Linked DNA regions of Homo sapiens: region 2 is linked to region 1. The links come from fine-mapping of genetic effects on gene expression. A gene starts in region 1. The other region holds a variant in brackets. All regions are shown on one strand. Distances are between the middles of the regions.

The links. PIP is the estimated chance that this variant, and not a neighbour inherited with it, causes the effect.
Region 2: its variant is fine-mapped to the expression of MR1 in whole blood (INTERVAL, PIP above 0.99). The same link has a PIP of 0.9 or more in monocytes after LPS.

What each region holds. Positions count from the first base shown.
Region 1 is chr1:181,025,963-181,041,964 of GRCh38, forward strand. It overlaps MR1 (major histocompatibility complex, class I-related), which reads left to right and starts at 8,021. Exons shown (of 6, transcript NM_001385161.1): 1 at 8,021-8,112. The coding sequence starts at 8,046. RefSeq lists enhancers at 7,201-7,390, 7,591-7,690, 7,821-7,930.
Region 2 is chr1:181,054,270-181,070,271 of GRCh38, forward strand. It overlaps MR1 (major histocompatibility complex, class I-related), which reads left to right. Exons shown (of 6, transcript NM_001385161.1): 6 at 956-7,669. The coding sequence ends at 996. Among named protein-coding and RNA genes, the nearest start is that of IER5, 26 kb to the right of the region's middle. RefSeq lists enhancers at 7,759-7,888, 8,529-8,578. The variant G/A (reference allele first, on the strand shown) is at 8,378.

The DNA of each region.
Region 1 (16,002 bases):
GGGATTAGAAAAAGCACCAACAATGGAGATAGTGGAGTGTCAAGATATAAAATGTGTGTATGTGTGTGTGTGTGTGTAGGTGTTCCTTTCTTTAATGTGTCACCCTCCTTTACCCTCTCTCAAACTAGACCTTGGCCTCCACTGCCCACAAGGAAAGGGAAGCTATGGCTAAAATGCAAGGAGAAACAAAGGAGGTTCTTTCTTTCTTTCTTTTTTTTTTTTTTCATTTAATAGGACCCACGTCCTGGCATAAACAATAGGTTGGGAAGAATACTCAGCAAAAACCCATCTCTTCCCACACCCCCACCCCTACCCCACCCCCAACCCAAAAGAATAATTTAAATTTCTCAGGGAATAAAAAATCAAAACAGTGGTTGTCTTGGGGGACAGAGTTTGACTGGGAAGGGAAACTTTCTTGGGTACTAGAAATGCTCTGTATCTTGACGGAGTGTGTGTTACATGAGAGTATCATTTGTCAGAATTCCTCAAACCGAAACTCTTAATTGGACTTAACTTCTGTTCATTTTTCTGGGGGAGGTTGACATGCCAACTCTGAGCTTTCTGTAGAGTTCTGAGTGGGCAGCCAGGAGAACCTCTGGTTCCTGAGTGAGTCTCCAAAGTTAGGAGAGTGAATGAGGAAGGGAGCACACTGGGTCCTGCAATGCATCTTCTGCAGAAATAAGGAGATGGCAACACAGAGAATAAGGCACAGGCAGCCAAATGAGCTGAGGATCAGAAAGGAGCCAACCATATCACTGGGGATGCCAGGATAGACCTGAGAGGGATTGCAGTGGGTAGCCACCCCCTGCCCCTGGAAGCTGCGGGAATGCCATGACACCCCTACAAGGGGATCTCCCCTACTCTGAAATAATGACATTCAGCCTGCTCCTTCACTAGCCTGTTATAAGGAACAACTGGATCATATATGGGAATAATTTTTTATTTTTTAAATTTTTTATTTTTTAAATTTATGAGGCCGGACATGGTGGCTCACACCTGTAATCCCAGCACTTTGGGAGGCCAAGGCGGGCAGATCACAAGGTCAAGAGATCGAGACCATCCTGGCCAACATGGTGAAACCCCATCTCTACTAAAAATACAAAAATTAGCTGGGCTTGGTGGTGCGTGCCTGTAGTCCCAGCTACTTGGGAGGCCGAGGCAGGAGAATCACTTGAACCCAGGAGGCAGGGGTTGCAGTGAGCCAAGATCACGCCACTGCCCTCCAGCCTGGCGACAGAGCGAGACTCCATCTCAAAAAAAAAAAAAAATTTAATTGTGGTAAAATACACATAACATAAAATTTACCATCTTAACCATATTTAAGTGTACAATTCAGTAGTGTTAAATATATTTGCCTTGTTGTGCAACCAATGTCCAGAACTCTTTTCATCTTGCAGAACTGAAACTCTATACCCATTAAACAACTCCCCATTCTCCCCCAACAATCTCTGGCAACCACCATTCTACTGTGTGTCTCTATGAATTTTACTACTCTGGGTACCTCACATAAGTGGAATCATACAGGATCTGTCTTTTTATGATTTGCTTCTTTCAGTTAGCATGATATCTTCAAGGTTCATTCATTCATTCTACATATTGCAGAATTTCCTTCCTTTGTAAGCCTAATATTCCATTGTATATATACCACATTGTGCTTGTCCATTCATCCATCAGTGGACGACACTTGGCTTTCTTTCATCTTTTGGCTATAATGAATAATGCTGCTATGAACGCTGGTGTACAAATATCTCTTTGAGACCCTGCTTTCCATTATTTTGGATATATACCCAGAAGTGGAACTGCTGGATATGGTAATTCTATTTTAAATTTTTTTGAAGAACAGTCATATTGTTTTCCATTTTACATTCCTGCTAAAAGACACACGCATTCCAATTTCTTCATATCTTCATCAACACTTGTTATTTTCTGGGTTTTCTTTTCCCTTATAGCAGTTGTACTAATAGGTGTGAGGTGGTATCTCATTATGGTTTTGATTCACATTTCTTTAATAATTAGTGATGTTAAGCACCTATTCGTGTGCTTATTGGCCATTTGTATATCTTTTTTGGGGGGTGGGGAGAAATGTCTATTCAAGTCCTTTGCCCATTTTTGATTGAGTTGTTTTGTTTTTGTTGAGTTCACCCTAAATCCTTCTTGAAACAAGGTAAAGAAAGGGAGAAAAGTGTTAACATAGATATAGGATATCATACTCTTCATCATTATCCAACCTTTTAGAAACCCTGATATACATGTACATATTCCAGAACATTCCACTTATGTTAAGTTCCATTGATCTGGCTATGACTGTCTATGTTTCCTACCTCCAACCACAGAAAATATCCATACACATATCCAAAACACACTGGCCATGATTTATTTCCTCTTCCTGTTTGTTACCAACACCTCCACCACTGTCACCCTCTACACACTGATTTAAAATAAACAAGGAGGAATTCCAGTCAATTTACATATTCAGCACTAAGGAATGATGGAGAATTTGTGGAACATCCATTTGGTGGTCATTAGAAATGTTGTTTAAAAGTATGTAATGACATAGGAATGGCTTGAGTAAAAACAGCAAGACACAAAATTATACATATGATACAATTTCAGCTCTGTTCTTTCTTATACATTAAAATGTTTTGGTACATAGAAAATTTTTACACGTAGGAAAAAAGAAATCTATTTAAAGTTTGTCAACTACTACAGTGAAATATTTACTTGGATAGTCAGAAATCCAAAAAGTTTTTTAAAAAGAAGAGAAAAAGTAATAAAAGAGAAGTGAAAAGCCAAGTGACCACATACGAAAAAGTACATCAAAAGTTAGCAGTTTTCAGCCTGAGCAACATGGCAAAACCCCATCTCTACAAAAAAAAAATACAAAAATTAGCCAAGTGTAGTGGCTTATGCCTATGGTCCCAGCTACTCGTGAGGGTGAGGTGGGAGGATCACTTGAGCCAGGAGGCAGAAGTTGTAGTGAGCCATATTCACGCCACTGCACTCCAGCCTAGGCGACAGTGAGACCCTGTCTCAAAAAAATAAATAAATAAATAAATAAATAACAGTTTTAAATCCTGTTTAGAATAAGGCAAGTTAGGAGGGTCTGAATGAATGGAAATTGGTGAGTACTAAAAAGCTGAAATACGTTATTGGAATTCAGTGAATTTCTTGACAAGACGGTGGATTTGAACCACTATAGGAAGGGGAGGTATGTTCTTTACCATCCTTTATGAATGTGACTGTGTATAAGGAAAGAAAAATCAATCTGTGTTGGTAAACTGGCTCATTGCAATAATAGTACTAGTGATTGCTAATATTTACATACTATGTACCAGGCATTGTGCTAAGTGACCGATGTGGTTGGGCTGTGTACCCAACCAAATCTCATCTTGAATTCTCATGTGTTGTGGTGGGAGGGACCTGGTGGGAGGTAATTGAATAATGGAGGTAGGTCTTTCCCGTGCTGTTCTCATGATAGCGAATAAGTCTCATGAAATCTGGCAGTATTATAAGGTGGAGTTTCCCTACACAAGCTCCTGTCTGCCTGCTGCCATCCACATAAGATGTGGCTTACTCTTCCTTGCCTTCAGCCATGATTGTGAGGCCTCCCCAGCTATGTGGAACTGTAAGTCCAATAAACCTCTTTCTTTTGTAAATTGCCCAGTCTTGGGTATGTATTTGTCAGCAGTGTGAAAACAAATACAGTGACACACATGCATTATCTTCAGAAGCTCCAGAATCCCCATATGGGGCAGGTTTTAGAATGTAATTTGGTTGGACAGCAGGGCTAGGGGACTTGATGTGGCATGGGAGACCCCTGTCTTTTCTTTTTTTTTTTTTGAGATGGAGTCTCACTCTGTCGCCCATGCTAGAGTGCAGTGGTGCGATCTCTGCTCACTGCAAGCTCTGCCTCCCAGGTTCACACCATTCTCCTGCCTCAGCCTCCCGAGTAGCTGGGACTACAGGCGACCACCACCACGCCCGGCTAATTTTTTGTATTTTTAGTAGAGACGGGGTTTCACCATGTTATCCAGGCTGGTCTCGATCTCCTGACCTCATGATCTGCCCACCTTGGCCTCCCAAAGTGCTGGGATTACAGGCGTGAGCCACTGCGCCTGGCCTCTTTTCTTAAATTATAGGTTTATTTGGGATTACTTAAGACAGCTGATGGCCATTATGCGTGTGTAGTAAAAGTACTCTAATGCCCCAACAAGTGACAAGTCACTTCTTGGTTCCACCACTGCTGATTTCATTGAATCCTCACAATAATCCTGTAAGGCAGAATTGGTTATTACCTCCATTTTCTATGAGAAATCCCAGACTTAGAGAAGTTAATAATTTGGTCAAAGGTCACATAGGTAGGAAATGTCAGAGCCTCATTTGAAAATAAGTTTGACTCCTGAACCCATGTTCTTTGCTACAGTATTCTACTCCCATTTGTACAAGGACTAGCCTTGGCCAAAAATTGGCAAATGGATTTTACCTACCCACAGAAAAGGGCTCAAATCAAACTCGACACAGACACAGACACAGACACACACACACACACACACACACACACACACACTTCTACTGAATTAAAAAAGAAATAGCCAAGGGGAAACTACTGATTAAATATAATAAAATATATTATGTTGAAAACAACATTATTTAACAAACAAGACCCTTTTGCTAACTTGATAATTCATCATTTGGTTTTTAAGGATGAATTGCACTAACTGCAAATGAGTCAGATTCCTCAGAGGGGCCTTAAAATACATATAATAAATCAGGTATTAAAAAGCCAAACACATAAAGGGATTTATAATGAACAGGATAAGCACAACCCACTCTGAAAAGTGCGGCCTGAGATTTAAGTTTAGACTATTGCTCAGAGGTGAGGCTTGTTTTTCCACAAAGAGAATGCGAGGGATTCTCCCTACCTCAGTGCCTCCCAGCTTAGTGGGGCAGTCTTACCTGTCCTTGAAGATCTTGGCATAATTGAATCTATTAAAAATTTTAAGGACTATTAAAGCTATGCTATTAAAAACTGCATATTAATATTGGAAAATATAAATTTGAAAAGAATTTACAAAATACTATTAGGACGTAAAACCCTTTTTTGGTAAAATGAACAAATAAAGGTATGCTTATATGCAGACATATGTAGTCAGCAAAACCACTGAAAAGAAATACACTAAAATATGTTAACAGCAAATTTTTTCCTTTCTTCCTCCCTCCTTCTCTCTCTCCTTCCTTCCTTCCTTCCCTTCTTTCTTTCTGTTGCCATGGTTGTAGTACAGTGGCGTCTCAGCTCACTGCAGCCTTGACCTCCCTGGCTCAAGCAATCCTCCCACCTCAGCCACCTAAGTAGCTGAGACTACAGGCGCATGCACCACACCTGGCTAATTTTTTGTATTTTTAGTACAGATAGGGGTTTCACCATGTTGCCCAGGCTGGTCTTGAACTCCTGGGCTCAAGCAATTTGCCCACGTCAGCCTCCCAAAGTTGGGATTACAGGTGTGAGCCACCATGCCCGGCCAACAGCAATTTTTTCTGATGGGTGATTTTTATCTTATCACTCTCTGGGTTTTTTATATGTATTTGCCCTGTACTCTGGATTAAATTTACTAATTTGCAATTAGAATACAATGACTTAAAAAATGAAAGACATCGGTCAGGTGTGGTGGCTCACGCCTGTAATCCCAGCACTTTGGGAGGCCAAGGTGGGTGGATCCTGAGGTCAGGAGTTCAAGACCAGCCTGGCCAACATGGGAAAACCCCATCTCTACTAAAAAGACAAAAATTAGCTGGGTGTGTAATCCCAGCTACTCAGGAGGCTGAGTCAGGAGAATTGCTTGAACCTGGGAGGCGGAGGTTGCAGTGAGCCGAGATGGCACCACTGCACTTCAGCCTAGGCGACAGAGTGAGACTCTGTCTCAAAAAAAAGAAAGACATCGTTGACATACCTACATTTTTTTTTTTTTTTGAGATGGAGCCTTGCTCTGTCACCCAGGCTGGAGTGCAGTGGCACAATCTCAGCTCACTGCAACCTCTACCTCCTGGGTTCACACCATTCTCCTGCCTCAGCCTCCCGAGTAGCTGGGACTACAGGCACTCACCACCACGCCTGGCTAATTTTTTGTATTTTTAGTAGAGACAGGGTTTCACCATGTTCCAGGATGGTCTCGATCTCCTGACCTCGTGATCTGCCCGCCTCGGCCTCCCAAAGTGCTGGGATTACAGGCGTGAGCCACCGCGCCCGGCCTCATACCTACTTTTTAATGTCAGTACAGCAGGTTATGGTATGGAATGCATTTTGGAACAAGATATTAACAAAAATTCAAAGGAAAAAATACATGGCCATGGAATTCCAGTGCTGAGAGACATTTGGGAATATTGGGGGAGTTTTCCAAAAGAGAAATCCAGGTGACTGTATTTGTTAAATGAGTAACAAAAGGAAAAACAATGTAAAGAAACAGAAAGGAAAGGAAGAGAGAAATACAAAGATCTGAGAAGAGAAGGTGCCAGGGGCCGCTGAGAGATTGCCAAATGTTAATTTCATTATTTGGCTTCTTATTTTATTCTGGGTAAAGGTAGACCTATTAGTTTCCTGTTGCTGCTATAACAAATTACCACCAACTTAGTGGCCTCGAACAATGCAAATTTATTCTTTCAAAGTTCTGGAGGACAGAAGTCCAAAAATGTGTCCTATCAGCTGAAATCAAAGTGTTGTGTTCCTTCTGGAGGCTCTAAGGAGAATCTGTTCCTTCTCTTTTCTAGTTCTAGAGGCCATCTGCGTTCCTTGGCTCATGTCCTTCTTTCAGCAATGGCATCATCACTCTGACCTTTGCTTCCATTGTCACATCTCCTTGACTCTGACCCTTTTGCCTCCCTCTAATAAGGCCCCTCTGATTACACTGGGTCCACCAGATAATCCAGGATAGCTCTCTGTCTCAAGATCCTTAATTTAATCATATCTGCCAAGGGTTTTGTTTTGTTTTATTTTGTTTTTGCCATTTAAGGTAATATATCCACAGGTTCTGGCAATTAGGTTGTGGACATCTTTGGGGCGACAATTCTCAACCTACCATACAACCGGTACATAAGGTTCTACTACCTACTAAATGCATCATAAACAGAACTTCTGATCCTTCAACAACTCTGTGAAATATATGACAGGATTTGCTTTTAAAGTTGAAGAAATCAGGCCTTGGTGCAATTTGGGATTCTGCCCATGGTCAAATAGTGGGGAGGCAAACCCAGGTCCCTGAACCCAGCTCAAGCCTGCCTGCCTCATGGCCATGCCTCCATTCACCTCTCCCCTTCATGTCTACTTCCTCTTTCCTGTCTGGGCCTGTTCCCTAGCTCCCTGGACAAGCTTAAGCTGCTGTTTTCCAGCTTGTCATGTGCTCCTTATGACAGTGTAGCCACAGCTTGATCTTGGGGATTGCTGATTGAGCAAGCTGAGTGGCTGCCCCTCAGAATCTTCTGTAGGCCTTTCTCTTGCCTTCTTTTATTCAGTAAGTGTTTTGAGCTTATTGTGCTGGGTGCTAGAGTAGCAGGGAGGACAGACCTAAGTTGAAGATTACGGGACAATCTAAGTGACACCTGCTATCTCAGACAGAGACTTCAGCATCATAGGGAGCCAGAGCAGGGAGTTCCAAGCCGTGGGAACTGTGACTCTTTCTTACTGACCCTTAAGCAAAATTCTAAGCTCCAGGGAAGCAGAGGCAGCAGCTTGAGCTCCCTGATTGACCAGATATGATTAATCTTTGTTTCTCTGTGCTTTGAACATGACTATGCTCCATAAATATTTAAAAATTGGGAATAGGGTGAAGATAGATACACCAAAAGGAGCAAGCAGTGTCTGAAACCAGCAAAGACTTAAAAGTTACCGAAGAAGGTGTTCATGCTTTCATTTTATCTTTTTTTTTTAACCTAGCAACTGATGACACTGCATATCTTCCCCTGTTCTTATTGGGAGAAGGCCTTGTGTGTCACCAAGAGGTTCTCAGAAGGGACCTGTCAGTTTTTGGTTAAAAGAACCCGGAAAGAGAAGGACTATGGGGGAACTGATGGCGTTCCTGTTACCTCTCATCATTGTGTTAATGGTGAAGCACAGCGATTCCCGTGAGTATCCCACGTCCTCTTCTCTCCTAACTCCAAAGTCGAGGCAGCCTAGAAGGCACAGCTTTTCTTCCTAAAACTTGTGGTGAAAAATATAGAAGCCAGGGGCAGAAACGTGTATGTATTACACTCAGACTCCAGGAGCAATGGATTGCCTGAACAGTTTCCCAGTTCATATTTGTAGGATTTTGATGTCACCACCTTCTGAGGGAGGGGGAGCCGTTCTAGAAAGACTCTGGAACTTCCTCACTTTCCCTCTGAGCATGGCCTCCTTTCTTTTCTGCTCATATTTTTTCTTTTACTTTTGTTTCTCCTCTTTTCTAACTTCCAGAGTCTCATGAGGATGTAGTCAGAGTTTCAGGGGCATTAACAGTGGAGTAGATCCATTGTTCAGGTTTATTTATGTTTTTCCTCAACACAAGCCCTACCTGTAATAAAAGATCCAAGAAAGATAAAACCATGGCTCTGGGTTTGTTTACTGACTGTGAGAAGTATTAATCAAGTAGAAGGGAGAGTTTTTCATTATTCGGGGAGCTCAAGTCACTGGGGAAGCAAATGCCTTCTGTTGCCTCAAATAGGGGAAAGGGCCCATGGGCTAGAACCACCAGGCTTCTCTGCCCTAATCACTTGCTCCCTGGGCTGAGGACTGGTACTGGTGGGCAGTGTCCAGAACTTAGACTTGGCCACCACCATAGGTGTGACTGATGAACATGAGAGGAAGGAGTTCTTTCAAATCACCCATGCACATAGAGAGTGGAATGACTGACCATGGAGATTTGGAAGGGCGAGGGGGGTGGATGATTAGAAATTACTTAATGGGTACAATGTGTGTTACTTGGGTGATGGATACCTTAAAGCCCCAACTTGACCACTACACAATCTATGCTATAACAAAATTGCATGTGTACATCATAAATTTATACAAATAAAAAAATTTTAAATCATATGGCTGGGAGTGGTGGCTCACACCTGTAATCCTAGCACGTTGAGAGGCCGAGGCAGACGGATCGCTTGAGGTCAGGAGTTTGAAACCAGCTTGGCCATCATAGTGAAACCCCATCTCACTAAAAATACAAAAAATTAGCTCGGCACACCCATCTCTACTAAAAATACAAAAAATTAGCTGTGCACAGTGCGCACCTGTGATCCCAGCTACTCGGGAGACTGAGGCAGGAGAATCACTTGAACCCAGGAGGCGGAGGTTGCAGTGAGCCGAGATCATGCCACTGCACTCTAGCCTGGGTGACAGAGTGAGACTCCATCTCAAAAAAAAAAAATCCATATATTAATTGTTCAAATATTGATTGATGGCCTACTATGTGCCAGGCACTTTGGGGGATATGGCAGCGAACAAGACAAACATAGTCTCTGCTTCCATGAAAATTTAATCCAGAAAGTGTCATCATTTATGGGAAAGATTGGGGGTGAGGGTAAGAGGCAGAAGATGAAAGAGGAAAGGAGGAGAGAGGCAAAGGGTGATATTTTTGGAAATAATAAAGCTTATATATTACCTGCATGTGATTCTCAAAGAACTCTCCAATAATATGGAATAATATTCCTTAAACATATTATCTCCTATGACAATCTCACTGACTATTTGTAGTAGGTGAAGAAAATATCCCCATTTAAAGATGAGGCCTAGATTTTTCTCTAGGCCTAGAGAGTGACCACGCTCACATAAGGAGCAACCTGAAGGAGACTGCAGATCTTCTGGCCCTCGGTCCAGGGCTGTTCCACAATGTCATTGCTCCTTTGGGTGTGAAGACTTGTCACTTTGATAATTGGGGGGACAGGAAATAAAACAAGTAAGTTATAAAGGCAAGGGAAGGTCACTTGGTGCTGGCTGTTCTCCTTCTGACTCCTTAGAGTGCATCCTTCTCTGTTCTGTTCTGTGTCCTTGAGGCTGACTGCTAGACTGCATCACCTAGACTCTCTTGCAAGCTGATTTCTGCTTGGGTTCATACAATGGGAGACACTGAAAGGAGAGATGTCAGAGAGCAGGGAGGAAAGAGAGGCTGGGATACATCTTTCTTGCTCCTTCCCCACTTTCTGTGATGTCTTTGGCAGTAGCTATGTTCTTCTGTAATGCTGTCTTCCCTGAATAACCCCTTCTTCATGGTTCTAGCTCCCATTGGGCTTCAGTAACGGTATTTGCTATTCTTATCTCTTAAGCCCTAGGGGTGATAATGGCTTCCCATAGTTGTTAGCCTGCAGATGCCCATCATCCTTGTTTGTTCCGTTAACCTTGACCATATCTCTGCAAGGAGTCCCTTCATTAAGGTCTCCTCACATGACCCATCTGGCTTGAAGGCTGTTTCCTGCTAGGACCCTAACTGAACATTCCTGGGCTTTGAGGGATATTGGCTGGAAAAGGATATGAGATTATGAAAGAAGACTCAGTCTACTTGATATTTATGCCTAGTGCTAGCCCTGAGTGGGAGCTATATACCAGTAATAGATGGGGAAACACGGGGAAGAGATACTGCAGGGTTGTGGGTCATTACTCCAGGAAATGTCAACATAACTCCAATATCACTTTCAGTGTGTTGCTTTCATCAACTCCACAGCCTGCAGTTGACTCCTCCTTCCTTTGTGCTCCCATGGCTCCTGTTCACAGTTCTGTAATTTTCCATTTACAAAAATCTTCTCTTTGAGGCTCTCCTTAAAGACAGAAAGAGATATCTTCATTTTTTTCTTATTTCTCTGGTATACCTAGTGCCCAACAGGCACTTAGTAAATGTTTGCTGAGTGAATTTATGTTCGGAGGTAATGTCCCTAAGAAATCACAGTTATTTGACTGGGAGCCATAGAGAGCTCGGGCAGTAATAACGACTGCAAATTCAAAACTGTGGCTTACTGTAGTTGCAGGATTTGTATTAAAAAGGTGTTTCATGCTTTTACAACTCATCTTGTTCTTCATTTCAGCCTGTGTGAAACTGTGAATTGGCGATATGGGTGGGTGTAATCAGACTGGGGGCTGGCATGAGATTTCTCATGCATTGCCATATGTGATTTGTATGTTTCATCTCGACATAACCAAGGTCAGTCTCTTGATATTACTCATAATTTTATGGCTGTATAAATCTGCTATATCAATCTACTTCATGAATGGTGGAGTCCTTCACAGGCGAGGTCTGATGATGGATAAGCTCCCTAAGCTGCCAACTGGGTTACTGTTAAAAAACAGACTTGCATATTATCTGCTTAGAAGTGACCTTGAGTTCAAAGAGTTAACATGAGAAAATATGGGCTTTTTCTTTAGACTTTATTAGATAGACTTCAGTCTGTTTCCATGGAGCTGTTGCCAAGGTATATGCCATAGAAATTTCTCCAAGACAATGTTTCACTCCCCTAAGGCCCTCTTCTTAATTGGCATTGAATCTATCTAAACTTGAGAAATTCAACTAATTTGTAGATTTTTCTTTTGACTAGTTGAAATATCTGTCTATTCTCACTTGACCCCAATCCTCTTACCCCACAGTATTGCTAAGAGCTGGAGGAAAGGAGCCTAAGTTAAAGATCAAACACATGACTCTTTGAACACTTATTTTAGGGAACTCAAATTGAGAAAGATGACAAAGGATGTTTTTTCTGATGTATGAATTTATATTTATCGGGGAAAATCTTTCAAGAGTATACATATTAAGTCACATTTTGTTATAACTTCAAAGGATCATTTTAGAAAAATAAAATTTATAAAATCGGGATTTTCTGGGAAACATAAGACATATAGTCATCATTGTGTACAGAGAGTACTGAGGGAAAAAAGACACCAGAGCTCATTCATTCGTTTTCCAAAACTCCACATAGTCCTACAGGGCTCACTTTCTTACTCCATTCACATCTCTGCTCAAATGCCACCTGCTGTGGTCCCTCTATCTAAAAGATCAGGCCTTCTCCTCTCCACACTCTCTTTTCTCTGCTTTACTTTTCTTCATAATCTTTATCTCCACCTGACCTTGTATTATATATGTATTTATTGCCAATCTCCTGTCTAGAAATTATCTCACAGGGCTGGGACTTTCATGTGTTCATTGCTCTGTTTCCAGCAGCTAGGACTGTGCTTATTGGACATTCAGAAAAGAATATACCTATATGAAGTGAGACATTGGCAACCTTCAAAAGGGTAGCCTCAGAAGAGTAGCTCACAAGCCAAACTTGTCACAGTCGCCACTTTTATGCTCTAAGTTCCTGTAGTTAGTTAGACATGTCATTAGGAGAGGGGACTAATGGTTCTTGCTGCACATAGAACCATCCATGAACATGGCCTGAGATGTGTCCAAAGGTCCCCTTAACTAAAAATATTGCCACCTACTTCTCCCCTCATTCCCACGATGCTCGAAATTCTAAAGAGTCATTCCCAGGAATCATAATCATTTTGACCTTATTAAGGCATTGGACTTCTTGAGAGAGCCAATAAATAATCAGACTGTGTTGACCTGGTTATCCAATCAGGACTCACGGCCACCTGTGTGTAGGAAGGTCTGGAGCCTGTGGCCCCAGGGACTGGGAAATCAGAGGCAGTGAGTCATCCTTGACACAAGGGGGCAGGAGAGAGCAGTGATAATCCAGGGGCTAGAAGCCTGGCCTGGAAAGCTTCCCCTACACTAGGGAGGGTTGGGTAGTCTCAAGGTAGAGGGACTTCCCATGGAGAGATCACAGTGTGATTCCTGGTTCCTTCACTTATGGATTCTGAGGATGATCTTGGGCAATTAATCTCTCTGCACCTATTTTCTTTTCTTTTTTTTTGAGATGGAGTTTTGCTCTTATTGCCCAGGCTGGAGTGCAATGGCGTGATCCCGGCTCACTACAACCTCCGCCTCCTGGGTTCAAGCGATTCTCCTGCCTCAGCCTCCCAAGTAGCTGGGATTACAGGCATGCGCCACCACACCCAGCTAATTTTTTGCATTTTTAGTAGGGACAGAGTTTCTCCGTGTTGGCAAGGCTGGTCTTGAACTCCTGACCTCAGGTGATCCGCCTGCCTTGGCCCCCCAAAGTGCTGGGATTACAGGCATGAGCCACCACACCCGGCCTCTCTGCACCTATTTTCTATCTGTGGGTTGGAATTATAAGACCTACCTCAAAAGTTTGTTAGAAGAATAAGTGAAACCCATGCTTATCAAGGGCTTAAAATGGTACCTAACACAAGGTATGTGCTCAATAAACAAATACAGTTGTGATGACTATGATTAAGATGCTGCTGCCCTTTATGCCTCATTGAAGGCCCATCTGATCTGCCACCTCCTTGGAACATTTCCCAGTGGATCCCTTCTCATGGGACCACGGTCTCTCTTCTCCTAGTGGCTGGAGCACTCCATTGGTACTCTTTTCTGGCGCTTGCTGCTTGTTGCCGTGTGTGGTGGAATTCATTTATTTGTTATGTGCTTTAGCTCCCCAATAATACTGTAAGTTCCTGGAGGAAAGAGCTGGTATTTGATTTGTTCTTCTCTTCCTAACATTGCCTCCAATTCCTTGTACATAGTAGACACTAAATAAATAATTGCCCCCATGAGGCCGGGCGCGGTGGCTCACGCCTGTAATCCCAACATTTTGGGAGGCTGAGGTGGGTGGATCACCTGAGGTCATGAGTTCGAGACCAGCCTGACCAACATGGTGAAACCCTGTCTCTACTAAAAATACAAAAATTAGCTGAGTGTAGTGGTGGGCGCCTATAATCCCAACTACTCTGGAGGCTGAGGCAGGAGAATTGCTTGAACCCAGGAGGCAGAGGTTGCAGTGAGCCAAGATCATGCCACTGCACTCCAGCCTGGGTGTCAGAGCGAGACTCCATCTCAAAAAAAAAAAAAAAAGAAAAAAGAAAAGAAAAATTGCCCTCATGGATGAAGTGAAAACACTTCATCAATTATTTTACAATCCAGTGATTTTCACAGCCTTTTGTAAGAATGGCCCAACTGGTTAATGGACAGGTTAAAGGGAACATGATTTAGAACTATCAAGTAGCCATTGCACCTAGCCTAAGAGTTTTTGGTTGTGTCGTTCGGGTTCTCCAGCACTATCTGTCAGAAGCTGATGAGACTGGGCAGGAGATGCCTTTTGAGAAGTAGCTTGACTGGTTTAGACAGAATACCAAATTCTAAATTGTATATTTCAGCTTAATAAGTGAGTTGATGCTGATGATCTATCTGTTCATGGAAAGGGAGAGAGAGACTTAATTTCAAAATTATTAGGGCGAGAAAAGAGAAATGGAAGATTAGATCAAATGATATGAAATTGCCATTTTTATAGGTCAAAAATGGTAAAATATTGGCCTTTCCAAATGATTCGAAATCTGATTATGTCTGCAACAAATCCTGGTGGGATATAAATTATCACAAGTTTTAATGTACTAGGAGAGAGAGGGTACCTGGACTTTTCCTCATCTTTTCTGTTGTGAGTTACTGACTGAACATGTGTCAATCAACTTCCCACCACAGCAGAGGTAACATTTTAAAGGCCCAGCTAAGGAGCAAGCATGACTTGTTCCTGTGGAGGCACCAGATGGGTAACTGGGCCCATGGCAAATGAAGAGGAAGGGACTGTGATGTCCTGGAGCAGAGCCACGCTGGGCTGAACCAGTGGTGGATGGGTGTGACTGAAAAAGCAAGTCCAGCCTTTAGGTGCCTGGACTTTGAAGTCAAGGCTGGCTGGTGGAGAACAACTGTTTCAAAACCAGGCATCAGAATTAGATTGAAGTTAAAAAAAAAAAAAACCCAGAAAGAAAGAAAGACACAGCCAGGCACGGTGGCTCATGTCTGTAATCCCAGCACTTTGGGAGGCCAAGGCAGGGGGAATCATGAGGTAGGAGTTCAAGACCAGCCTGGCCAACGTGGTGAAACCCCATCTCTACTAAAAATAAAAAAATTAGCTGGGTGTAGTGGCAGGCGCCTGTAATCTCAGCTACTTGGGAGGCTGAGGCAGGAGAATCGCTTGAACCTGGGAGGCAGAGGTTGCAGTGAGCAGAGACTGTGCCACTGCACTCCAGCCCGGGTGACAGAGTGAGACTCTGTCTCAATAAATAAATAAATAAATAAATAAATAAATAAATAAATAAAGCACAATACTTACTTGGACAGTATTGTCAACAGACCATATTTCTCTCTATCTACCTCTTTTAACTTCAGATAATGCAAATTCTTGTGAAAATTACATTTTTATAAGAAAGCAAAGTTACATGAATTGTAAATATTATGTTTGGAGATGATGCTGGTGATACTTAACTGGAATAAATCCTGCTATTGGGCACTAATGCCCCAAGTTGTTAATACTGGAGGTTTTTTTGCTTGTTGGCATCTATCAGGAATGTAGACCTCAGAGATCATAAAAATAGAAAACCCAGATTCCAGGGGATGTTCTACACCAACCCAGCTTAGCTCAGCAACACAGCATCTTTTTTTCTTCCTTCTTTTTTCTCCTCTCCACATTCTCTGTCTGGAGTCTGCTCTCCGTGGGGATTTTTTCCCATGAAAAACTATGGAAGTGATTCCTCCCTCTTTCTTTTCCCCTCACTCCCTCAACTCCAGCCACAGGCCTTTGTGCTGCTCCTGGAATGTGCCAGGCATGTTCTTTCCAGGGGCCTTTGCATGGCCCTTCTTGTCCAGACTGCTGTCCCCAGACACCTGCCTGTCTCCCCAACTCCTTGCAGGCACTTGCTCAGAATTCAGCTTTGTGGGAAACCTTCCTTAATACGCCTTCCTTTTTTAAATAGTGTTGCCCATTCCTCTTTGCAGTTTTATTTTTCTTCACTGTACTTTAAAAAAATTATATATTTTATTTTCTAGTCTGTCTTCTCCCCTTCCCCCGACTAGGGTGTAGACTCCATGAGGGCAGACATTTTTATCTGTTTGGTCTGGTACAAGCTTAGGGCCTAGAAGAGTGGCTGGCACAGAAGAAGCA
Region 2 (16,002 bases), 28 kb after region 1:
GTGCTCCAGGCACTGTACTGGTTGCTGGGATATAACAATGAACAAGACAGATACGATCCCTGTTTTCATAGAGCTTACAATAGAGCCTGGTAAGGTTATCTCCTGGCTCTGGCTTCACTAATTGCTCAAATTGATCACAGGATAGTACCGATGAGACCATGCTTTGAACCCAAAGTGGACCAGAAGTTTGGTTTTCCTTCATAGACATAGACCTCAACTCCAATTCAGGTGATAACTGTACAAAAGCATGTTGTTAGATCAAAGTAAAACCAACCCTTTTACTAGAAAATCAGCTCAGAGGCCGGGCGTGGTGGCTTACAACTTGTAATCCCAGCACTTTGAGAGGCCGAGGCAGGCGGATCACTTGAGGTCAGGAGTTCGAGATCAGCCTGGCCAACATGGTGAAACCCTGCCTCTACTGAAAATATTAAAAAAAAAAAAATTAGCTGGGCGTGGTGGCACATGCCTGTAATCTCAGCTACTCAGGAGGCTGAGACAGGAGAATCGCTTGAACCTGGGAGGCGGAGGTTGCCGTGAGCAAAGATCGCTCCATTGCACTCCAGCCTGGGCAGCAAGAGCGAGACTCTGTCTCAAAAAAGAAAAAAGAAAAGAAAAGAAAAGAAAATCAGCTCAGAGAGTTAATGGGTTGTTAATGTTTTCTTTATAGATAAAGTACAGCACTAATCCTAATCCAATAAATGATAGTGAAACAAACAAAAAATTTTTTTACAATGACATCCCTCTCTCAATAATTATACAGACTGTGAGTTCCTGCTTTTTATCTTATAGAGTTTACAAATTTGAGCTAAAGTTTGTCAAGTACTAAGAGAATCTTGACAAAGCAAGCTAAAACTGTCGATGCCTGTTTCTCAGATTTTGCTGAACACTGCATACTTTATTTTTGAGCTGTGAGGAAACATTCTTGTAATCTGACTAAAAACCCCTTTCCTTTCAGAGCAAAATGGAGCCATCTACCTTCCAACACCAGATCGATGATTGCAGATCCCTCTTTTCCAGTTCTCCTTCCTCTAGGAGCCATGTTATCCTCTGTCCCCCATAGAGTCAAGCCTAGTGCTTGAAGGTCCTGACGACACCCACAACATACATGAGAGTAATGGGATTGAGCATTTATGGCAGCAACAGAGGAGCCACAAAATGTTCTTTGTTCTTTGGCTCCAAAAAGACTGTCAGCTTTCAGTCTCTTTTGATGGACTGTTTTATCAGAGTTGACTTTAAATACAGCTTGTCTCATGACACAACGCTTCCCTACATTCTATTTGTCAATGATGATTTGCAACTAGTTGGAGATTCTCAGAGCAGGAAGGAATCTTTTCAACCAGAGCAGGAACTGTCTTCTGCAATGCCTTGGACTTGAGCCTCCAGCCTCCACTTGAACACCATGTGAAGGGAACCTCAGTACTTCATAAAATGGCCTTTCTCATTCATCTTTCATGGGAACATTTATTGTACAAGCGCTTTGAATATCATGGGCACCATGACTGTGACCCTACAGGTAGGATTGGATCACTCCATGAGAGTAGCCGGCAGGTTTCTACAATGGCCTGGGAATGGACTGATTATTTTTATACATTTTCTGGCCTGAGAGAAAGCCAAAGTCCCCTGCTGTTCACAGCAACCCTGCCTGGGAGCTTGGAATCTTGGTAATCTGCCCGGTTGGATCTATGGAGGTAGTCTCACCCTTTTTGTCTTTTGTGGGAAATTAAGAGAAATAATTATCAGACATATCATCACCTCCAGTGGAACTACAGAGACCTGGACCCAGCTGCACTATTTTAATGTAAAAATAACAGTATGGCCAGGTGCAGTGGCTCACGCCTGTAATCCCATCACTTTGAGCAGCCAAGGCGGGCGGATCACGAGGTCAGGAGATTAAGACCATCCTGGCCAATATGGTGAAACCCTGTCTCTACTAAAATACAAAAAATTAGCTGGGCATGGTGTTGCGTGCCTGTAGTCCCAGCTACTTGGGAGGCTGAGACAGGGGAATTGCTTGAACCCGGGAGGCAGAGATTGCAGTGAGCCGAGATCACGCCACTGCACTCCAGCCTGGCGACAGAGTGAGACTCTATCTCAAAATAATAATAATAATAATAATAATAATAATAATAATAATAACAGTATATTTGGTGTCAGGAGAGGGCTCAATTCTCATTTCTGCCTTTCCTGTGCTGGCTCATGGTAGCTGGGCATGACTTGCCTTCCTACATAGGTTGTCTTCATACATATGCACTGGGAATCAATAAAAGCCCATGGTGAGAATGAACATCCCCTTAATGTTCCTTACTATCCCCAACCCCTGAGGCCTCACCTACTGCCCTGCCATGTGGAGCTACTTGCCCTGGGGCTGCCAGTCACACATTCCTCGGTCCTACTTCTCTGACCCCGTTTGACTCTGCACCTGAGCCCTAATGCTTACTTCAGTGACCTGAACTTTGACAAGTGGCTTTTGTCCTGCACCTCAGGTTTGACCTCTGCTCTCCCTTGACCTTGACTGTGACATTTGACCTTTGGCTTTAATCATTACAGCCTCAGATAAAGGTACCTTCAGCCCGGGCACAGTGGCTCACGCCTGTAATCCTAGCACTTTGGGAGGCTGAGGCAGGCGGATTCCCTGAGCTCAGGAGTTCAAGACCAGCCTGGGCAACACGGTGAAACCCTGTCTCTACTAAAATACAAATAATTAGCTGGGCATGGTGGCATGTGCCTATAGTCCCAGCTACTTGGGAGGCTAAGGCAGGAGAATCACTTGAATCTATAAGGCAGAGGTGGCAGTGAGCCGAGATCACACCACTGCACTCCAGCCTGGGCAACGGAGCAAGACTCTGTCTCCAAAAAAAAAAAGAAAGATACCCTCAGTGTGCCAGGCCTCTAAGAGCTCACCTGCCAGGCTTCCTCCTTGCTCCACTGTCCCATGTAATTCCATATATGAAGCTACCACTGTACATCTCTCTTTTCCGGTGCCTGTTGAGTTGCATAGAAGCACAGTTGTGTTTATTTTGTTTTTAGGGTTGCCATGGGCAATTTCCGTGCCACTTTTAAGCAGTGTTGCACTGTGAAGAGAATGTAGGCAAGTTTATTTCTGGAATGGTTTCTTCTTACAATCAGAATAGTTAGGATGTAATATATTTTTGGGTGGGCATTTAAAGTGAAAAGGTACATATTTACATAGACACAGGTGATAATGTATCTATGTAAATGCCTTTTGATTCTGCAACTGCAGGATACTCTCATCAAAGACACAGATAAAAAGCCTCTGTGTTTCCAAGGCCTTGCCCTACACCTAACACATAATATGTCCAAATGGATGAAGAGGAGGCAAGGACAAGGATGTGATGACAAAACATTCTGTTATGCACTTGTAGCATTTATGTTTCTTCCTGGGGGATTTTATAATACTAAAAGAATCATAATATAAAGAGATGATTAAAAAAAAAATACTGCCGGGCACGGTGGCTCATGCCTGTAATCCCAGCATTTTGGGAGGCCGAGGTGGGCAGATCACCTGAGGTCGGGAGTTCGAGACCAGCCTGACCAACATGGAGAAACCCTGTCTCTACCAAACATACAAAATTAGCCGGGGATGGTGGCGCATGCCTATAATCCCAGCTACTCGGGAGTCTGAGGCAGAAGAACCGCTTGAACCCGGGAGGCAGAGGTTGTGGTGAGCCGAGATCGCGCCATCGCACTCTAGCCTGGGCAACAAGAGTGAAACTCCATCTCAAAAAAATAAAAATAAAATAAGTAAGTAATACCTAAAATTCTGCAACCTTCATTTTACTATAGATGGTTGAAGATTATATTACTTCTTAATTGTTTTAGCCTTGTTATTGCTTCATTACTTCATGGTTGTTGAGTACAGATGCTCAGTAATCATAACCTATGAAATATTTGACACCATGATCTAAACATTAAAAACAAATAACTGTGCTATTGCCACAGCTATGTTTTGGCTTTGAATTTTCTTTACTGAATATTTTGGATCAAGAACACTAGATGAGAAACCTGTTCAACTCTGTTCTTTTTTTTTTTTTTAACTCCACTGTATTTATTACCTGTTTTTGTTTTTTTTGTTTGTTTGTTTTTGATGTGCATATAGACCAAGATGTGGTAAATTTAAATGGCAGATGTTTTTGATGTGGTACATTTAAGGGAGAGAAAGCAGTTTAAAGAGCAGGGTGAAAAATCCAACAAGACTCCATCGAGAGTTTCTGAGCTCTCCCATCAGGGGCCAGTCCTCCTTTCCTCTCTCCTCTTACTCCCATGATTTCCAAGTTGTGATCCTTTCCTTATTTCTGAGGAATGACTTGGTTTCTCCTCTTCTTTTTTTGGCCTGAGAGAAGATGTTTTTGCACTTGTAGCTATGAGGAACAGATTGTCCACTAGGGAGGCCAGCTGATCATTTTCTGCCAGAGTCACACAGAGCAGTCACACCTTATTTTGAAAACCACTGTCTGGGGTCTTTGTCCTCACATATGCAGGTCTAGTGTCCCCACAAAGTGATCAGATGGATATATAAAGTGGAGTGCCAATGTATTAATTTACTGTGAGAAACACAATTGCTAAGTGGGTCAGATATCTGTCTCAGCTGGTCAGTACACCTTCCAGCAGGAAAATCTACATAAGAACAACTAAATCACAATCTGTAGAGTGCTTGATGACCCCAGAATTGGTGCAAGGGGACACATTCTTGCTTGTTAGCACCTGCTCTCTGGAGTTTGCTATTTTCTCACACACAGTGTATTAGTTCACAGAATGTTCTCCAAGGAGGACAGGGGGCTTTGCCCATAGCCATGTGCTGTGGGCAGCAGAGCTAGGAAGAAGCACAGGCATCTCCCAGCCCAGGTGTTTCCCACTTAACTGCATTGCCCTTTTCATCTTTTTTTTTTCCCCAATAGCTTCAGGACATTCAGTACATTGTGCTTTTTAGAGGTTGATGATTCCACTGCCTGAGCTGCCTTCACCTCTCTTTCTTTGGAAATTGCCATCTTTGAGCATTGTATGTCTCTGTAACATCTCTGCATCTCCTTTTCACTCTGGCCTCCCTTTCTCCATTGTCCTTCTAGCTTCTGGTTGCCCCAAACCCCACAGACTGTGTAACAAAACCCAAAACCTATTGGTTTAAAACAATACCCATTTTATTTTCTTTCATAGTTTCTATGGGTCAGGAATTTGGATATGGCTTGGGTAAGCAGTTCTGGCTTCTCATGGAGTTGGAGGCAAGTGGTGGCTGGAACAGAAATGGGGCAGCCAGGGGTGGTGGCCAGGCATCAGCTACATCTCCTCCATGTAGTCTCAGGAACTCTCCATGTAATCTCTCTGTGTGGGTTGGGCTTCCTCACAACATGGTGGCCTCAGGGCAGTCACTGCTTACATGGCAGCTAGCTTCCCTCAGAGTGAGTATCCCAAGAGATCACAGTCAAAGTGCATAGCATTTATATAATCTAATCTTGGAAGTCACAAAATGTCATTCTTGTGATACTCTCATTGGTGAAGAAGTCATAAAATCCTGCTCAGGTTCAAAAAGAGGGTGTATAGAACCCAACACTCAATAGGAAGATTGTCAGAGTTACATTGTAAGAAGAGCATGTAGTTGGGAGATATCATTGTGGCCATTTTGGGAAAGATGCAACATGTCACAATGTCATGTTCTCCATCGTCTCCCCGTTCCACCTTGTACTGGTTTCCAAGGGTAGTCGTTTAAAAGTACCACAAAAACTGGGTGGCTTGGAACAACAGAAATTTATTGTTTCACAGTTCTGGAGGCCAGAAGTTCAAAATGAAGTGTTGGCAGAAACATGCTGCCTCTAAAGGGACTGGGAAAGGATCTGTTCCAGGCTTCCCTCCTATCTTCTGGTTGTTCCTTGCCTTCTGGCTGCGTAACTCTAGTCTTCATTTGGTGTTCTCCCTGCATGCATGGCTTTGTGTCCAAATTTCCTTTTTTCATGAGGCCATCAGTCATACTGGATTAGGGACCCACTCTACTACTGCAGGATGACCTCACCTTCCCAAATTACATCTGCAACAACCCTATTTCCAAAGAAGGCCACATTCTGAGGTACTGGGGGTTATAACTTCAACATGAATTTTTTGGAGGAAACAATTCAACTCCTAACACATCTCTACCCAACCTCTGTAGGTTCCCTCAATCCACCAAAATTTTTTGGCTCCACTGGATTATCTAGCAGTTAGGAAACCAAGATCATTAAATGAATTCACCGCAACTACAGTGAGACTGACTACCTTAGCTTACCTCTGTGAAAGGAGTTAAGCCAAAGGAATCTGTGGAATTTTGGAGAGTTTGGGAGCATTTGGGGGCAGGAGGCAAATGTTCTTCCTTTAAATCACAACACTTAGTTCTCTTCCATTTATAAGACTCACCCCTCCATCCCAACCCCTGCACCACAGGACAAGGAAGTGTTCTTGGTCTTCAACTTTCATCCCTGATGGTGAAAGCAGTTGCTCCTGACCTATTTGCCCACCAGCTTCTCCTCTGGAGCCTGAGGCTTCTGATGCCTGCCTGGCTGGTTCTCAGTAAGAAGGTCAAGTTCAACCAGAGGGGAGATGCTGATGCCTTTCAGTACTTAAATATGAGTTCAGACCCTGGGGCCTGGACATAAGATTTGGGGTCCCCTGGATATAAGATTTCTGAAAACACTCAGACTGTGGAGACCCCTGCTGAGGGAGAAGCCCCAAACTGTGGCTTCAGGGGAATGCACCAAGGCTCTCATTGAGGCCACCTTCTCCAACAAGCTCCCCTCCTGCTTCCCCATGGCTGGCATGGCTGAGGAAAAAGGACACTGAGCACAGCCCGTGCATGAGCGGCTTGCCATGCAACAGGATAAAACCCATAATGCCACTCAGCAAGCCTTGGTTGTAAATCTAGTTTGATTACATTTGTAATCAAATGATGGCCATTTGTTCTGTTTCTGGTTTGTGAACCAACTGAAGACATAAGCAGGGCCTCAGCTAACCCACAAATAGCACATGTGTGCAAACTGGAAAAATGAACCCTTCTTCTGGGAGGACGCCAGCCCAGGCCAGGTCACCCGGCTTGGCCAGCAGAACACAGAGTAGATTTTGGTCCCGTTTGTTCCCCAGTGGGGTATCTATCCTTGTGCAGGGCACAAGCCTACATGGTGGCTCTGGTCATATCATTAGAAAATAGACAGAAATGGGCTGCACACCAGAATGAATGAATTGAATTGAAAGGGAGGAGTGATGGTGGAAAAAAAAACAAGTCAATTCATTTAGACTGGTAGAACCAGAACCACTGTGTAGTACATCCAAACGGTTAAAATTCCCTGGAAGATGTTACATAATCCTATCATGGTGTTTATTTATGGAAATCTATTTTAAAAATTTTATGTAATACTGCACAGTCTGTTTGCATGATGCCTTGTACGTAGTAGCAACTCAGTAAATACTTTTTGAATGAACTAGTATAGTATTTTAATTAGCTAGTCTTCATGTACTGGTACAAAAGAACAGTGTCATCTTACAGCTGAAGTCATAGAGGGGAAATATCCCACTCAAGATCATATAACATTCCAGGTACTCAGGATGAATGGTTTGAGGACTGGTCTGAATTCTTCAAAGGTTTCAGCTGTATTAACATTCTCCATCTAATAAACTTTATCTTGTCATTGCATTGTCTGTGAGATTAGTGATCTGAAACATTCCATCAATACCCCCACCCCACCCAACACATACATATTAAAGACAAAGATAGAATTCGGAGGTTCTTATGGGAGGTACTGTTTTTCTCGAAGGCTATGAGAAGAGGTGCTGAGAAATGAGTTCTCAGCCATCTTGGGGGCCCAAATATCTGAAACCTTCCAGAAATGTAACTAGTCTGAATTTGCTTTTCTGTCACCATTTGGGTATTTGGTTAATGAAAGTTCTTAACATGCAAATTCCACCCACTCTTACCAATGCCCTGAGCTGGGAAGCACCCTGAGCACTCTTACCACACCCTGAGCTGTTGCTTTTCCTCTCCGCCTTGCCCCCACTCCGTGTTGGCTGCACCAGCAGAGGCTTCTGCATTTGCCCCTGGGCGGGAGTTGGGTATGAAGGTCTGGGCCAGAAGGTTCTGAGTCCCTAAGCTGAGCTGCTGGGTGGCAGCTGGAAGGTCAGGCTGGCTGAAGCCCTGGCGAGGTGACACTGGGTCTGAGGCAGGTGCAGTGGCAGCGGCCAGACCTCTGAGGACACAAATGGGCTAGAGTGTGGGAACAACCGGGGAAACAACCCGGGGGTGGGAAGGGAGTAGGAAGGGGGGAAACAGCTTCTGAGAGGAGGCTACAGGATGAAATGGGAAGCCACGAAAATAAGGAAGTGAAACCAAGGGAGAAATAAGAGT[G/A]CCACCCAAGCCGAGGCCGTCCTGGCCTTTCTTCCTTTCTGAGGCATCAGCGCAGATTCTAAGTTTACTTGAACTAACCGAAAGCTCTGTTGTTTTCTGAGCAACATCACAGTGGCATAAATAGAGAATTCCTGGAACACACTGGCAAGACACACGCTCTAGAAGGTGACAATTCTGGGGAAATCTGAAGGGCTGGAATAATAAAAAGTCAAACATTTGGCATCCCATCAGCTGCTGAAACACAACCCTCTCACGTACTTTAAAATACCCAACACATGCACTCTGCATATTACTCACGAAACAGCTACGAATGCACAGTCCCTGTGTTACACACAACAGGAAGTTGCCAAACCAGATGTAACCCACCAAGGCCGAGCACATGGGCAGCCCTTCACCTTACTGTTAAAAGACTGAATGGTCATTGGTCCCTGAGGATCCCTGAAGAAGACAGGCAAGCTGTTCTAATCCAATTTAGGTCTTTGCAACTGAAATTGAGATCAAATTTCAAAGATCTGTAAACTAGTGCAGCTTCACAGACTTGAAATTAGTCTACAAGATGACATGTTTCTGGGCCTAATGATGACATTTTTAGAGACTGCCCCCAGCCACAAGGAATTATTCGTTTTTTCTGTGTGGCATGGTATACACCATATTTTCATTCAAGCCACAGAGTTTTTTTTACCCCAGTTTCTTATTAATAATCTGCCACAAATACTGATATTTAAATCAAATTCTTATGGCCTTCATTAGTTAATCAACCATTCATGAAATATATGCGCCATAAGGCCTGACACTTCAGTGCCTGGCACATAGTAGGCACTCAGTACATATGCATATTGACAAAATGAACTGCTGCTCCTACAAGCCAGACTCTGTAGGCAACACAGCACAATGATGTTCTGAAAATTAGCAAGTACAAAAATGGCCCAGACATATGCTTATAGAAAAATCAAGCTCACATCACAGAAAATAATTTTAGAGATTGTAATCTAGAATGCATTTCTATAAAACAGTCCCTGGGTTTTCTGCTAACAGAAGAAATACAACTCTGGCTGGGGGCACGGTAGCTTACACCTGTAATCCCAGCACTTTGGGAGGCCAAGGCGGGCAGATCACTTGAGGTCAGGAGTTCGAGACCAGCCTGGGCAACATGGTGAAACCCCGTCTCTACTAAAAATACAAAAAAATTAGCTGGGTGTGGTTGCTGGTGCCTATAATCCCAGCTACTTGGGAGGGTGAGGCAGGAGAATCACTTGAACCTGGGAGGCAGAGGTTGCAGTGAGCCAAGATTGCACCATTGCACTCCAGCCTGGGCGACAAGAGCGAAACTCTGTCTCAAAAAAAAAAAAAAAAAAAAAAAAAAAAGAAAAGAAAGAAAGAAATACAACTCTGACAGTGAGCTTTCATAGTAATACTGAAGACACAGGTTGAATAAAACTTTCAAGTGAGATGGGAGGGCCTGCACATAAATATGCCATGAAACAAAGGACATGGGGAGGATGAAGGGCTCAGCACTGCCTCCTTCCCTGCAGCCGCTGGGCTGGGCTAAGAGGACCCATAGGCAGTGGCGATGGCGACAGCAAGGAACTCAGAGATGTTCAGTGAGACAGAGGAACTTCTAATCCTCTAGTTTCCTTTTGTCTTCCTGATAGCCTATCCTCAGAGAAATAATTCCCTTACTAAACGCCTAAGTGCTTTTCAGCTCTGCCACTCAACTGACACTTAGCTATTCTGTGTTGGTATTTATCTGTTTCTGCTCGGCTTATCTCCCTGGCTGGACTATAAACCCCTTAAGGGCACAATGTGAATTCTGTGTCCTTCACTTAGTATCAGGGTGATCTTAAGTTGTTTAACTTCTCTGAGCCTCATTTTTATAAAACCCGGGGCTAGTCAATACCTGTCTTCCAGTGTCAAAGTGGGGATTAAAGGAGATGTGTGTGTGCAAGCATATTGCAAAGAAATGGCATCTGGGATGTGTCTTCCTCTACGTGCTCTCCAGGGACTGCTCCCCATGTCCCATATAATCGCAGCCACCATTTATGGGTGCTTACTATGCACTGGGTACTTCACATATATTACTTCTATTCCTCATAACAACGTTGGCAGCAGGTATTATTATTATTATTTTGTTGAAGTTCAGATAAATTGTATTTCTTGACAAGGTTATATAGTTAATAAGTGGCAGAGGCATGATTCAGACTCAAGACACTGTCTTGAGTCTGGGCACTGTCCTATCTGCACACAGGGCACTGTCCTATCTGCACACAGTAGGCCCACTCCATCAATGCCTGACCAAAACTGTGAGGTGTCATCCACTTAAAACTATTGAGGACTAAACTCTGATTTTTTTATCTTGCCCAAATTCTTATCTAAGGGGACTGGGGAGTCATGCTCTATAAATCATAAATTCTCATCAGATGGGTTTTATTTAACCCTACATATCATGATTTATTTTCCAACTTGACTCTGACATAACATTACCAGACAAAGAAGAAAATCAAAATATTTTAACCTGGCCAGGCGTGGTGGCTCACGCCTGAATCCCAGCACTTTGGGAGGCCGAGGCAGGCGGATCACAAGGTCAGGAGTTCAAGACCACCCTGGCCAACATGGTGAAACCCTGTCTCTACTAAAAATACAAAAATTAGCTGAGCATAGTGGTGTGTGCCTATAATCCCAGCTACTTGGGAGGCTGAGGCAGGAGAATTGCTTGAACCGGGACCCAGGAGGCAGAGGTTGCAGTGAGCCGAGATCGCGTCACTGCACTCCAGCCTGGGCTACAGAGGAAGACTCCGTCTCAAAAAAAAAAAACCCACAAAAATTAGATGGGCGCAGTGGCAGTCACCTGTAATCCCAGCTACTCGGGAGGCTGAGGCAGGAGAATCACTTGAACCCAGCGGAGGCAGAGGTTGCAATGAGCCGAGATCACGCCACTGCACGCCACTGCACGCCAGCCTGGGTGACACAGTGAGACTCCATCTCAAAAAAACATATATATATATGATATGTAATATATTTAATATTAATTTAAATATATCAATTTTAATGTAATTTAAATATTAATATTAATTTAAATATATATATATTTTAAACCTCAAAACATGTTTCTTTGCCTTATTTTGAATTGGCCCTGCAAAGCTGTTCTTTGTCAGGGGAAATTTGCATCTGTAAAGAATCTCTATTAACATAGCTAGATCTTTTTCTTCCAGACCCTCCCAATCCTAAAAAGATTAACTAAGATCTGAATAGGAAACATTTGTCCCCTATTGTCTTTAAGCCACTGTAAGACTTAAAAAGAACTTTGGTCTCCACAATCTTTATCTTAACCTGAACATTCCCTTTCTATCTATCCCAGGTCTTTAGGCAAACTCAACCAATTGTCAACCAGAAAATGTTTAAATTCACCTATAGCCTGGAAGCCCCCACTTTGAGTTGTTCAGTCTTTCTGGACCAAACCAATGTATTTTTTAAATGCATTCGATTGATGTCTCATGCCCCCCTCAAATATATAAAACCAAGCTGCTCCCTGACCACCTTGGGCACATGTTCTCAGGACCTCCTGGGCCATGGTCACTCACTCACATTTGGCTCAGAATAAATCTCTTCAAATATTTTACAGAGTTCGATTCTTTTCGCCGACACTATGTTCTGTACTTAATCTTGGGAACAAAGGAGTTCAAACATCTGTGCAATGAATCAAAAATTAATAAAGGCCCTGATAAATTTAGGAAAGTTTGAATCTTTTTCCTCTGACTTTGATGATGTGACTTAAAGGCTGAACAAGGCCTAAAGGGCCAAATGAAGCAAGTTACCACACATTTCATGGACATGTCAGTGAAACCCGTGGATAACATTCGCTACTTGTTGATTCTTAGTATATGGAGATGCTGGTGCATAAAGGAAAAAGTATAAGCTCCCTCACCTTGCAAAAACAACTCACCCAGGGTAGATCTATGGGCACACAGAATTGCAGAGCTGGAGGGCCCATTGAGTGTCATATAGTTCAATTTTCTCATTTTTTTTTTTTTTTTTTGAGACAGAGTCTCTCTCTGTCGCCCAGGCTGGAGTGCAGTGGCGCAATCTCGGTTCACTGCAACCTCCGCCTCCCGGGTTCAAGCAATTCTCCCGCCTCAGCCTCCTGAGTAGCTGGGATTACAGGTGCCCACCACCACGCCCAGCTAATTTTTGTATTTTTAGTAGAGACGGGGTTTCGCCATGTTGGTCAGGCTGGTCTCAAACCCCTGACCTTGTGATCCACCCATCTCGGCCTCCCAAAGTGCTGGGATTACAGGCGTGAGCCACCGCGCCCGGCAATTTTCTCATTTAACATATGAGAAAATTGAGGCTAGAGTGAGTAAAGTGATTTGCCAAAAGAAACCCTGAAACCAATGATAAACCTCATGTCTTGACATAAATGTTCAACATCTCTAGTCATTAGGGAAATGCAAATTAAGAGCACAATGAGCTATCACTGCATATCTCTAAGAACAGCTAAAATAAAAGAAGGCTGGGTGCGGTGGCTCACACCTACAATCCCTGCACTTTGGTAGGCTCACTTGAGTATCACTTGAGTCCAAAAGTGATACTTTGGGAGTATCACTTGAGTCCAGGAGTTCAGAATCAGCCTAAGGAACATGGTGAGACTCTGATTCTATAAAAAATTAAAAAAAAAAATTAGCTAGGCATGGTGAAATCTGCCTGTAGTCCCAGCTGCTCAGGAGGCTGAGGCTGGAGGATCACTTGAGCCCAGGAAGTCAAGGATACAGTGAGCTGTGTTTGTGCCACAGCACTCTAGCCTGTGCTGTCGGGCGAGCGGCACTCTAGCTTGGGGTATGGAGGGTAGGGGAGCGAGAGGGAGAGAGAGACCTTTGTCTCTTAACAAAAAGAAGTGATAATACCAAATGCTGGTGAGGATGTGGAAAAACTCAAAACAGTTTGGTCATTTCTTTTTATAAAGTTTTTGTGTATATATTTATGGGGTACATGAGATGTTTTGATACAGGCATGAACTATGAAATAAGCACATCATGGAGAATGGGGTATTCATCTCCTCAAACATTCATCCTTTAAATTATAAACAATCTAATTACATTCTTTAGATAATTTAAAAATATGGCTGGGCGCGGTGGCTCATGCCTGTAATCCCAGCACTTTGGGAGGCTGAGGCGGGCAGATCACAAGAAGGTCAGGAGATCGAGACCATCCTGGCTAACACGGTGAAACCCCGTCTCTACTAAACGAAATACAAAAAATTAGCCGGGCGTGATGGTAGGCGCCTGTAGTCCCATCTACTCGGGAGGCTGAAGCAGGAGAATGGCGTGAACCTGGGAGGCGGAGCTTGCAGTGAGCCAGGATCACGCCACTGCACTCCAGCCTGGGTGACAGAATGAGACTCCGTCTCAAAAACAAAAAAGAAAGAAAGAAAGAAAGATTATTTAAAAATATACAATTACATTATTGTTGACATAGTCACCATATTGTGCTATCAAGTAGTAAGTCTTATTCATTCTTTGTTTTTTTGTACCCATTAGTTTGGCCATTTCTTTAAAAACTTGATATACACTTACCCAGCAATTTTATGCCTGGGCATTTACCCTAGAGAAATGAAAAATTATGTACTCATAAAAATCTGTATATGAATACTCATAGCAGCTTTATTTGTAATAGACTCAAACCAGAAACAATCAAAATGTCCCTTGATAAGTGAACTGTTAAATGATGGTACATCCATGCCATGGAATATTACTCAGCAATAGGAAGGAATGAACTACTGATGCATGCAACAATTTGGATGAATCTCAAGGGTATTGTGCAGAGTAAAAAATGCCAGTCTCAAAAGGGTCACCTACCATATAATTCCATTTATATAGCATTCTCAAAATGACAAAATTATAGAGATGAAAAACAGATTAGTGGTTGCCAGGGTTAGGAATGGCTCAGGGGAGGGCATGAGTAGACTGTGAAGGGGTAGCATGAGAAAGAGCTTTGTGGTGATGGGATGGTCCTGCATCCTGATTGCAGTGGTGGTCATACAGATCTACATGTGTGATAAAATGACACAGAACTATACACATATATTGAACCATATCAATTTCTTGGTTTTGATATTGTACCATAATTATGTAAGATATAACCTTGGAGGAAACTTGGTGAACAGTACATGGAACCTCTCTGTGTTGTCTTTGCACTTTCCTGCAAATCTATAATTATTTCAAAGTAAATTTATTTTATTTTATTATTATTTTTTTTTTTGAGATGGAGTTTTGCTGTTGTTGCCCAGGCTGGAGTGCAATGGTGCAATCTCGGCTCACCGCAACCTCTGCCTCCCGGGTTCAAGCGATTCTCCTGCCTCAGTCTCTGGGACTACTTGCATACACCACTACGCCCAGGTAATTTTGTATTTTTAGTTTAGACAGGGTTTCTCCATGCTGGTCAGGCTGCTCTCGAACTCCCGACCTCAGGTGATCTGCCTGCCTCGGCTTCCCACAGTGCTGGGATTTCAGGCATGAGCCACCGCACCTGGCTAGTAAATTTTTTTTAATTAAAGGACAATGCACCTCCTCATTTCTGTTAGGATATTTGTAATTATCTGGTTTAACTAAATACATTAAACTAATTGCTATAGAGTGTTCCGTAAAGACTAGCCAAATAATAAAATTGACCAGTTAAAGTGACCTGTGTCTTTTATAGCTACCTAAAACCTCTTTTTAAAAAATTGCACTTAGTTTGCAATCAGTAAGTTGTAAATTAAAAATACTTAAGTGGATCCATTAACAGTGGAATAATCTGAAAAGGTTGTCCTATTAAAATTTGGCACTATCATAATATTAAATATCATTTGTTTGGGGATTTTTGGGGATGTTTCCACTGGTTTAAGATTCTAGGCGGGGCATAGTGGCTCATGCCTGTAATTCCAGCACTTTGAGAGGTCGAGGTGGGCAGATCACTAGAGGTCAGGAGTTTGAGACCCGCCTGGCCAACATGGTGAAATCCTGTCTCTACTAAAAATACAAAAATTAGCCAGGGGTGGTTGTGGGTTCCTGTAATCCCAGCTACTTGGGAGGCTGAGGCAGGAGAATTGCTTGAACCCGGGAGGTGGAGGTTACAGTGAGCCCAGAGCAAAACTCTGTCTCAAAGAAAAAAAAAAAAAAAAGATTCTATAGAAGAAAAAGCCCAAGGTATTCGGTTCCTGGATCTTGCTACTATCTTCCATAATTTGAAGACGTCACCACCTAAGGTGACCATCATCTACTTACGTGACTGAAAATTCTCATCACTTGGTGGTGAGCAGCTCAATGAGATGATTTGAACTTTAAGCTCTTTTTGCACAGGCAGGAGGGCTACCACTTAAGACTGATTATACTTCAATTACTCTGATTGTTGGGTTTTAAGATGATTTCTTTGCAGCAGCTCTTGTCTAGCTTTTCATGGCTGCACCTTGAATCTACAGGTAAATCTCCCGTTTTTGGGGGCTTATGTTATCTAAGATGTGTAACTAACGTTTCTTTCCCATTGTGACTGTACCAGTCAATCTAATGAACAAACTTCAGTCACTGCATATTTCCTTAGGGGAAGTTCCCCATGGAATTTATTCATATATTGATTAGACATGATGGCCAGAATCT